Regions from separate parts of the Homo sapiens genome. Here region 1 is linked to region 2. Evidence: fine-mapped expression QTL. A gene starts in region 2. The other region holds a variant in brackets. All regions are shown on one strand. Distances are between the middles of the regions. Region 1 overlaps TSTD2 (thiosulfate sulfurtransferase like domain containing 2). Region 2 holds the start of XPA (XPA, DNA damage recognition and repair factor).

Region 1 (5,380 bases), 76 kb after region 2:
CAGTGGCTTTTAGTCAAAGGCCTCCATTCCTCTCTGTGGGGGTCTCTTCATAGGCTGCCTGAGTGCTCTCATGACATGGCATGTGATATGTGAGAGACAGAGACACTTCAAGACAGAAACCACAATCTTTTATGACCTAATCTCAGATTGCCATACCATCACTTTTTATTGATGCTATTGGTCACGTAGACTAACCTCAGTACAGTCTAGGAGAGAACTATGCAAGGGTCTAAATACCAGGAGGCAGGATCATCAGGGATCATCTTGGAGGCTGGGCACCATACCTCAGAGTTGTTACTTTTTAGTGTGTATTACCTAGCAGCACTGCCTGCACTTTACCTATTCTTTCAGGATCTTAACTACTTGCAACAGCTAGATCCTTAAGGCACAGAATTCTAGAGGCCTAAGTTAGGCCAATAACATGCATACTATATATAGCCAAAGACCATAGCCTGTGCAGCAGCATATACCCAGTCAGTTGACATTGTTTGTGAGGTTTTTTCTTTTTTTTTTTGAGACAGAGTCTCACTCTGTCACCCAGGCTAGAGTGCAGTGGTGTGATCTTGGCTCACTTCAACCTCTGCTTCCCAGGTTCAAGTGATTCTCCTGCCTCAGCCTCCCGAGTAGCTGGGATTACAGGCATGCACCACCATACCCAGCTAATTTGTATTTTTAGTAGAGACAGGGTTTCACCATGTTGGCCAGACTAGTCTTGAGCTCCTGACCTCAGGTGATCTGCTCACCTTGGCCTCCCAAGTGCTGGGATTACAGGTGTGAGCCACTGCATCCAGCCTGTTTGCAAGGTTTCTTGGAGACCATTCTACATATTCTTTAGGGAGGAGAGGTAAAGAAAGAAAATTATATTATTTTCAAAAACAAGTGGGAAGACACAGAGACATTAATGATTCCTCTACCCTATGTAATGTCAGAGCTTAAAAAAGGGTTTTGTATTAGTCTGTTTTCATGCTGATAAAGACATATCCAAGACTGGGCAATTTACAAAAGAAAGAGGTTTAATGGACTTAACAGTTCCGCATGGCAGGGGAGACCTGATGATCATGGTGGAAGGCAAGGAGGAGCAAGTCACATCTTACGTAGATGGCAGCAGGCAAAGAGAGAGAGCTTGTGCAGGGAAACTCCTGTTTTTAAAACCATCAGATCTTGTGAGACTTACTATCACAAGAACAACATGGGAAAGACTCATCCCCGTGATTCAATTACCTCCCACTGGGGTCCTCCCATGACACGTGGGAATTGTGAGAATTACAATTCAAGATGAGATTTGGGTGGGGGCACAATCAAACCATATCATTCTGCCCCTGGCCCCTCCCAAATATCATGTCCTTACATTTAAAAACCAATTCTGTCTTCCCAACAGTCTCCAAAGTCTTATTTCAGCATTAACTCAAAAGTCCACAGTCTGAAATGTCATCTGAGACAAAGCAAATCCCTTCTGCCTATGAGCCTGTTAAAAGCAAGTTAGTTACTTCCTAGATACAATGGGGGCATAGGCATTGAGTAAATACAGCCATTCCAAATGGGAGAAATTGGCCAAAACAAAGGGGCCACAGGCCCCATGCAAGTCCTAAATCCAGCAGGGCAGTCAAATTTTAAAGCTCCAAAATGATCTCCTTTGACTCCGTGTCTCACATCCAGGTCATGCTGATGCAAGAGATTGGTTCCCATGATACTGGGCAACTCCGCCTTTGTGGCTTTGCGGGTATAGCCTCCCTCCTGACTGCTTTCACAGGCTGGGGTTGAGTGTCTGCATCTTTTCGGCACACGGTGCAAGCTCTCAGTGGATCTACCATTCTGGGGTCTGGAGGACCATGGCCCTTTTCTCATAGCTCCACTAGGCAGTGCCTCAGTGGGAACTCTGTGTTGGGGCTCTGACCCCACATTTCCCTTCTGCACTGCCCTAGCAGAGGTTCTCCATGAAGGCCCTGCCCCTGCAGCAAACTTCTGCCTGGGCATCCAGGTGTTTCCATACATCCTCTGAAATCTAGGCAGAGGTTCCCAAACCCTGATTCTTGACTTCTATGCACTCACAGGCTCAACACCACCTGGAAGCTGCCAAGGCTTGAGGCTTGCACCCTCTGGAACCATGGCCTGAATTCTACATTGGCCCCTTTCGGTCACAGCTAGAGTGGCTGGGATGCAGGGCACCAAGTCCCTAGACTGCCCACAGCAGGGGGACCCTGGGTTTGGCCCATGAAACCATTTTTTCCTCCTAGACCCTCAGGCATTATCGGGGGAACCAGCCCCCAATATGTCAACGTAGGTTCTTTTCTATTTTCTCTAAGTGTTGGCCGGCCTGAGAAATAAAGAGAAAGAGTACAAAACAGAGAAATTTTACAGCTAGGTGTCCGGGGGTCGCTTCACATGTTGGTAAGTTCTGTGATGCCCACCTGAGCCACAAAACCAGCATGTTTTTATTAGGGATTTCAAAAAGGGAAGGGTGTACGAATAGGGAGTGGATCACAGAGATCACATGCTTCAAATGGCAATAAAAAAGATAACAAGGGC[A/G]GAAGGGCAGAGCAAGGTCACAAGGCCAGGGCTAAATTAGAATTACTGATGAGGTTTCATGTCCCACTGTGCACGCATTGTCTTTAATAAACATCTTAACAGGAAACAGGGTTCAAGAGCACAGAACCAGTCTGACTAGAATTCGCCAGGCTGGAATTTCCTAATCCTAGCAAGCCTGGGGGCACTGCAGGAGACCAGAGCGTATTTCATCCCTCATCTTCAACCGCATAAGGCAGACACCCCCAGAGTGTCCGTCCATAGGACCACCCGGGAATGCATTCCCTTCCCAGGGTTATTCCTTACTGGGAAAAGAATTCAGCGATATTTCTTCTACTCATTTTCTTCAATAAGAAAAATATGACTCTGTTCTGCCCGGCCCCGCAGGCAGTCAGACCTTATAGTTACCTCCCTTGTGCCCTGAACATGGCTGTTACCATGTTCTTTTTCAGGGTGCCCAGATTTCATATTGTTCAAACACACATGTTTTACAAACAGTTTGTGCAATTAACACAATCATCACAGGGTCTTGAGGCGACATACATCCTCAGCTTATGAAGATGACGGGATTAAGAGATTAAAGACAGGCATAGGAAATTATGAGAGTATTGATTGGGGAAGTGATAAATGTCCATGAAATCTTCACAATTTATGTTTAGAGATTGCAGTAAAGACAGGCATAAATTATAAAAGTATTAATTTGGGGAACTAATAAATGTCCATGAAATCTTCACAACTTATGTTCTTCTGCCACAGCTTCAGCCAGTCCCTCCGTTCAGGGTCCCTGACTTCCCACAACAAGGCATGTGATAGGAGGGGCTGTCATGAGGACCTCTGACATGCCCTGGAGACATTTTCCCCTTTGTCTTTGGGATTAACATTTGGCTCCACATTACTCATGCAAATTTCTGTAGCCAGTTTGAATTTCTCCTCAGAAAATGGGATTTCCTTTTCTATTGCATTGTCAGACTGCAAATTTTTTGAACTTTTATGTTTTGCTTCCCTTATAAAACTGAATGCCTTTAACAGCACCCAAATCACCTCTTGAATGCTTTGCTGATACCCTAAATCGTCTCTCTCAAGTTCAAAGTTCCCCAAATCTTTAGGGCAGGGGCAAAATGCCACACCAGTCTCTTTGCTAAAACATAACAAGAGTCACCTTTGCTCCAGTTCCCAAGAAGTTCCTCATCTCCATCTGAGACCACCTCAGCCTGAAGTTCATTGTCCATATCATTATCAGCATTTTGGTCAAAGCCATTCAACAAGTCTCTAGGGAGTTCCAAACTTTCCCACATCTTCTTGTCGTCTTCTCAGCCCTCCAAACTGTTCCAGCCTCTGCCTGTTACCTAGTTCCAAAATCACTTCCACCTTTTTGGGTGTCTTTTCAGCAGCACCCCACTCTACTAGTACCAATTTATTGTATTAGTTCATTTTCATGCTGCTGATAAAGACATACCCAAGACTGGGCAATTTACAAAAGAAAGAGGTTTAATGGACTTACAGTTCCACATGGCAGGGGAGGCCACACAATCATGGTTGGAAGGCAAGGAGGAGCAAGTCACATCTTACATGGATGGCAGCAGGCAAAGAGAGAAAGCTTGTACAGGAAAACTCCCAGTTTTAAAACCATCAACTCTCATGAGATTTATTCAGTCTCATGAGAACAGCATGGGAAAGACCTACCCCCATGATTCAATTAGCTCCCACTGCGTTCCTCCAATGACACGTGGGAATTGTGAGAATTACAATTCAAGATGAGATTTGGGTGGGGACACAGCCAAGCAATATCAGGTTTTTATTGCCAGATACAGTTTTCTGAGCTGAATATGTTTTAGGAAGTGTATTAACTTTTAAAACTGAATCATAGGATTAGATGTTTAGATCCTGGCCTTGAAAAACTCACCAAGTCATATTACAGAATTCCAGAGGACAAATTTCTGACTTTAAGCAATTATTGAACTATTTGGTAAATAGAAATACAGTTGATCCTTGAAAAACACGGGGTCAGGAATCCAAGGATTAGGGGCAGTTGAAAATTTGCGTATAACTTTTAACTCCCCCAAAACTATACTAATAGCCTCCTGTTGACTGAAGCCTTATCAATAATGTAAACAGTCAATGAACACATCTTTCTATGTTATGTATATTATATATTGTATACTGTATTAAAGTAAGCTAGAGAAAATGTTATTAAGAAAATCATAAGAGGCCAGGTGCAGTGACTTATTCCTATAATCCCAGCATTGTGGAGGGCCAAGGCAGGAAGATCACATTAGGCCAGGAGTTCAAGACCAGTCTGGGCAACATAGTAAGACCCTGCCCTACAAAAAAAAAAGAAAAAAAGAAAATCGTAATACATATTTACTATTCTTTATGTTAAATGGTTCGTCATAAAGGTCTTCATCTTTGTCACCTTCACATTGAGTAGGCTGAGGAGAAAGAGGGATTGGTCTTGTTGCTGCATGAGTGCTAGAGGCACAAAAAGATCTACAAGTAAGTGGACCTGCACAGTTCAAACCCGCGTTGCTCACGGGTCAACTGTAGTCCAAATTTGATCAATTTTTGTCATTACTACTCAGTGCCACATTCCCTTTTACTTATTGGAAAGGAGCAAGAAAGCAAGTTGAAGTAGAAGTCACACTTGAGCTAGTCACTAAAATTTTCTGTACCTTCATTTCCTCACCTCTAAAATTGGAATAATAATGCCTGCCTTGCCTACCTCCCAGTACTGCAGAATGAGTTATATAGGACGGTGATAGTATAAGCAGTTGTGAACTACACTGTGCTATACAGATATGGCCCTTCCATTTCATATGGCCCCACACTTCAGGGAATTTACTTACTAGTTAGAAAAACA
Region 2 (5,367 bases):
ATGCCCAACCTCATTTTTCCTTTTTCACCTAGGCTTGTTTCCACCTGAACAGACTCTCCCTTAGCTAAGAGAACCAGACAAACTCCATCTTGGCTCTTTCACTGGCAGCCCCTTCCTCAAGGACTTAACTTGTGCAAGCTGACTCCCAGCACATCCAAGAATGCAATTAACTGATAAGATACTGTGGCAAGCTATATCCACAGTCCCCAAGAATTCATCTGTTTGATAACGCCCAAAGCCCTGCATCTATAACCTTGTAATAGTCTTAAAGCCCCTGCATCTGGAACTGTTTACTTTCCTGTAACCATTTATCCTTTTAACTTTTTGACTACTTAACTTCTGTAAAATTGTTTTAACTAGACGACCCCCCCTTTCTAAACCAAGGTATAAAAGTTAATCAAGCCCCTTCCTCGGGGCCGAGAGAATTTTGAGCGTTAGCCGTCTCTCGGTCGCCGGCTAATAAAGGACTCTTAATTCATCTCAAAGTGTGGCGTTTTTTTAACTCGCTCGGGTACAACACTTTTACTTCCTCTTCGTGGTTCTTCTTCATGAAGAGCAGCTCCTCCTTGAGAGCTTCGATCTCTGTCTCCAGCTGCAGCCGAGTGACACTGGTGTCATCAGTGACCTCCGGAGCCCATGGATGTGGCTCTCCACAGACTGGCGCATGGCCAGCTCTGTCTCATACTTGACTCTAAAGTCATCAGCAGCAAGACCAGCATTGTCAATCTGCAGAACAATGCAGGCATTGTCCACAGTATTTGTGAAGATCTGAGTCCTCAGGCCCTCAATGGTCTTGAAGTAATGGCTCATCTCTGACCTGGGGTCCCTTCTTCTACAGGTGCTCCTGGATTTTACTCTCCAGCTTCCAGTTCTTGGCCTCCAGGCTCCTCATTCTGTCCAGGTAGGAGGCCAGGCAGTTGTTCAGGTTTTGCACGGTCTCCTTCTTGTTCTGGATGCCTCTCATTCCTGCCAGACCCCTGGCCATCCCCGCGGCCAGGCCCCCGGAACCCATGCTGCTCAGGTAGCTGGTGGAGCGGGACATGGAGATCCGGGAACCAGAGCCCCCGTGCCTGTACAGACGCTGGCTATGCTGCTGACCAGCCGGACACCGTAGCTGGGTGCCTGGACAGAACCCAGGGACCGGTAGTTGGTGGAGAAGGTGGAGCGAGTGGTGAAGCTTATGCTGTCCAGGGAGGAGAGTGAGAGGACAGGACTCAGGCTTTGCCGACGACTTTAATTTTTTTTTGAGACAAGATGTTATTGTGTTGCCCAGGCTGGAGTGTAGTGGTGCCATCACAGCTCACTGCAGCCTTGACCTCCTGAGATGGGTTCTTGTTACATTGCCCAGGTTGGTCTTGAACTCCTGGTCTCAAGCAATCCTCCTGTGTTGGCCTCCCAAAGGGCTGGGATTACAGACATGAGCCACTGCACCTTGCCAATTATTATTATTTTTTAATAGTGACAGGGTCTCACTGTGTTGCCTCAGCTTGTCTTGAACTCATGACCTCAAGTCATCCTCCTGCCTTGGCCTCCCAAACTGTTGAGATTACAGGTGTGAACCACTGTGCCCAGCCTAGTTTTTAATTTTAATGAAGTCCAGCTTTTTTTCTTTTGTTGCTTGTGCTTTTGATGTTATGGAATTTGAAATAGTTTCACCTGGGCAAGATTGATGGGTAGGGAGAAAGAAGGATCTGAGGGGAAGGGAGATGGGGATGGCTTGAGATTCTATCTCCAATTCAACCTAAGATTTCAGCAGGTAACTGCTTTATACGAGGTTTTGCAGCTTTATGTATATATGACCGATAAATTAGAACACTGAATTGTGTTTCTGAAAGGTTAACCATTGAACATTAGTGGGAAACATCAGTGTGTGAGGTTGTCTTTCTAAAAGCCAGTCCTAAATGGTACATGTAGTAATTAGAAGTTAATGTTTTCTGGTTTCAATTAAGCATTATTTGTAACAAAGGGAAAGCATACATTTTTGGGAAAGCCTGCTATGTTTCTTTTGTTACACTAGCCACACTTTTGGGAAGTCAGGATATTTGGCCCAGATCCAAACCCACTGTCTACCTGGCAGTAGCTCATCCTCACTGAAGGAATATTCCATGGGAAAGATAGCCAACCTTATGCATATCAGCCTTGGAGCAAGTCCTGCATTTGCCTGAGGTCACACAGCAAGTTAACTGGGAGTTTCAACCCAGGTCTTCTCATTTTAAATCTAAGGCTGTGTCTCTAGGCCGTGTATCCAACATAAAATCAGGACTATCATCTGTTGGGCTCTATGACTGGCACTACTACTACTCACTGTTACCATTTTTTGAGGTCTTCTACGTGCCAGGTTATTGTCCTGGCAATCTAATCCTCCCAAAGACTCGGTAAATGGTTCCATAATTATCCTCATTTTACCACTGAAGAAACTGAACTCTGGTTAAATAACTTGCCCAAGGTCACACAGACTTTAACTGTCAAGAGCTCAGACTTAACCCAGGCCTGACTCCAAAGCCTATACTCTGAATCACCAAGCGAGACCTATTTTAAAGGTGACCAGGTCGTGAGATATGATCTCAGCACGGACCCTTCTCCCGGATGACAAGAGAGCAGGTAGTTAGGCGGGTACTCCGTGTCCGCGCATACCCAGACTCCGCCCAGCGCCCGGGCAGGCCACCCCGAGCCCCTTAACTGCGCAGGCGCTCTCACTCAGAAAGGCCGCTGGGTGCGGGGAGCGCAGAGGCGGTGCAGGGCGGCTGGCTCGCCTCGGCGTGCAGTGCGCGTGCGTGGAGCTGGGAGCTAGGTCCTCGGAGTGGGCCAGAGATGGCGGCGGCCGACGGGGCTTTGCCGGAGGCGGCGGCTTTAGAGCAACCCGCGGAGCTGCCTGCCTCGGTGCGGGCGAGTATCGAGCGGAAGCGGCAGCGGGCACTGATGCTGCGCCAGGCCCGGCTGGCTGCCCGGCCCTACTCGGCGACGGCGGCTGCGGCTACTGGAGGTTTGGGCCGCGTCCGCGCTTTCCCCTTCCCTCTCCCCGCCTCCCCGGTCCCCAGACTGGCTCGTGCAAGCCGAGTCCCGGGGCCCGGGGGTCGCGTCAACTCCGCTGGCGTATGTGTGCAGATTCTCCCCGAGTCGGAGAGGGAATCCGCCCAGCCAGCCGCCTTGTCAAAGCGTCCTGTCCACGACCACAGAGCGTTCCTCTGTCGCACGCGGGCCTCCTGACCCCCAGCCCCGGGCCTTCTTCGCTGCACCTCGGCTGCTGGCAGCTTCGATTTTTCGTTTAGGGATGCAGCCGCCCCGGCCGGGAGGTGTCAGCCACTGCCAGGTGTCAGGGCCTCAGCTGTCCCGGAAAGAGGAGTTAGACTAGTTCTTGATTCTGGCCTCTATACCTAGAACTAGTTGATGGAAGAGGCAGATCTTGGTGTTTGTTAGGGAGAGCTTTCAACAATTAGAGTTGCCAAAAGTGCAATGGATTGCTTCTCATGAGCTTCCCGTTACTAGAAGCGCTCAAATAGGAACTGGAAGAACGCTTACTTATGTGGAGGAGAGGAGATTCAGCAATCAGAATCTCCTACTCAGCAATCAGAAGAAGGGACTGGATAGTAAACCTTTAAGATTCTAATCCATAGATTCCATGAGTCTATTTCTTGGACATGTGACCTCTGCGATTTCTTGGCAAAAACTAGTTGCTCAAAACGTGTTTATTGATTGAAGTAAATTAAGGACTGATCTCTCATTGCAGATTATTCTCTTATAGAATTTGCCACTGGGGTCAACTAATAATCTTTAACAGGATACTTAAAATATAGTTTGGTTGACAGGCAGTTCTTCAGGGCTGCCTCTATAACATGAAGTACATGTGTTCCTAAAGCTCTATACTGCCCTTTGTCGAGCACAGTTTAGAGCTGTATTACTCTTTTTTATCAGCCAGATGTAGTGAGAGTGAGAAGAGTCTGAGGCTGGCAGCATGTCTTGATGTTCATACTAACACCGAAACTGCAAATTCCAGCTACTTTTGATGGTACTGGTCTCATCCTTTCTACTTTATAGTGGTTACCTTTTATTCCTTTCTAAACTTGAGGCACGCTAGAGTCAGACAGAAAGTTCATTTGCACTGATTAATTCATAGTCATGATTCCATAAAGGTTTCCAGGTCTACGACATGGCTGTGGAACGGAAGGTGCAAAATAGCAAAAACTGACATTAAATTAAACTTTTGATCATGGAAAGCAAGGTAGAATGAACATTCTTTAAGATTTCTTAGGCAGTTCCCCAAGAACTGAACTGTATTGTAGCATTGTGTACAACCCACCATGTTTCAAGAGTTAGGTAAGTGCTGAGATTTTTATCTTTGTGACACTTTTATTTCATGGTACTATACAATTTTCTTTTTCTCTGTGTGCCATGACATATGCCATGAAAGACTGAAAAAACTTGCTTAGAATACGAAGAGTGGTGCTAAGGTCCTGGGGAAACAGCAAGGCATAGCAGCAGAGAGAAATCGGACTTTGTTTTGGGCATGAGTTAGCATTGTTTAGGATCCTGCTCAAGTCATGGGCTCGACTACTCCAGCTTTCCCTCTTCTTAATTCTCATTGTGTTTACTGTCATTCCATTCATTTACTTTGCTATTTATATTACATATTCTGGTAGGTTCATTCATTTCTATCCATCCAGTTGGTACTCATGGAATGTTTACTATTTGTCAGAAGTATACAAGTAAAGGCACTCAGTCTAATGAAGGGATACAGAGAGATGAACAGGCATTATAGTGTGAGAATTGCTGTTAACAGTGGAAACAAGTTTATAATCTAATCCTTTCATTTAATAGAGGGAGAAATTGAGGCCAGAGAAGGGGAGTGACTGTAGCAGAATAAAACATATTAATCTGTCTTAATAAATGGAGGTGTAACATACTGTAAAATGTACTCATCTGAATTTTACCTATGTGAATGCTTGTGTAAACACCATCGTGATCAAGACATGTACACTTCCGGAACCTTAGAAGTTTTCCTATTGCGCCTTCCTAGTCGGTGTCCACTCTCTACTCTCAGAAGTAATACTCTTCTGACCATTTGATTGGTATTACCTATTTCCAAACTTCATGTACATTGAGTCATACAGTATCTGGCTTTTTTTGCGCAACATAGTATCTGAGAGATTCACACATTTTGTTGCGTGCATTGGTAGTTTGTGCATTTAGATGTTGTATAGATTCTTTTGTATTATGCCACAATTTTTTCCATTTTCCTTTTGGTGGCTATTTGGGTTGTTTCCACTTTGGGGCTGTTACGAATGAAACCTCTGTACACATTCTTTTTTATGTATTTTAGTGGACATACACACTCACTTCTCTTGTGTATATGCCTGGAGATGGAATTGC

Evidence for each region. PIP is the estimated chance that this variant, and not a neighbour inherited with it, causes the effect. A credible set is the group of variants that fine-mapping cannot tell apart.
Region 1: its variant is the best candidate, but not a certain one, in a credible set for the expression of XPA in tibial artery (GTEx, PIP 0.71).

Annotation. Positions count from the first base shown.
Region 1 is chr9:97,618,991-97,624,370 of GRCh38, reverse strand. The region is part of intron 3 of TSTD2 (thiosulfate sulfurtransferase like domain containing 2); the gene reads left to right. Among named protein-coding and RNA genes, the nearest start is that of TSTD2, 12 kb to the left of the region's middle. The variant A/G (reference allele first, on the strand shown) is at 2,527.
Region 2 is chr9:97,694,737-97,700,103 of GRCh38, reverse strand. XPA (XPA, DNA damage recognition and repair factor) reads left to right here and starts at 2,764. Exons shown (of 6, transcript NM_000380.4): 1 at 2,764-2,983. The coding sequence starts at 2,812. It overlaps PTCSC2 (papillary thyroid carcinoma susceptibility candidate 2), which reads left to right. Exons shown (of 11, transcript NR_147055.1): 11 at 33-479. It also overlaps the pseudogene KRT18P13. RefSeq lists a silencer at 2,603-2,702 and enhancers at 3,253-3,302, 3,313-3,372.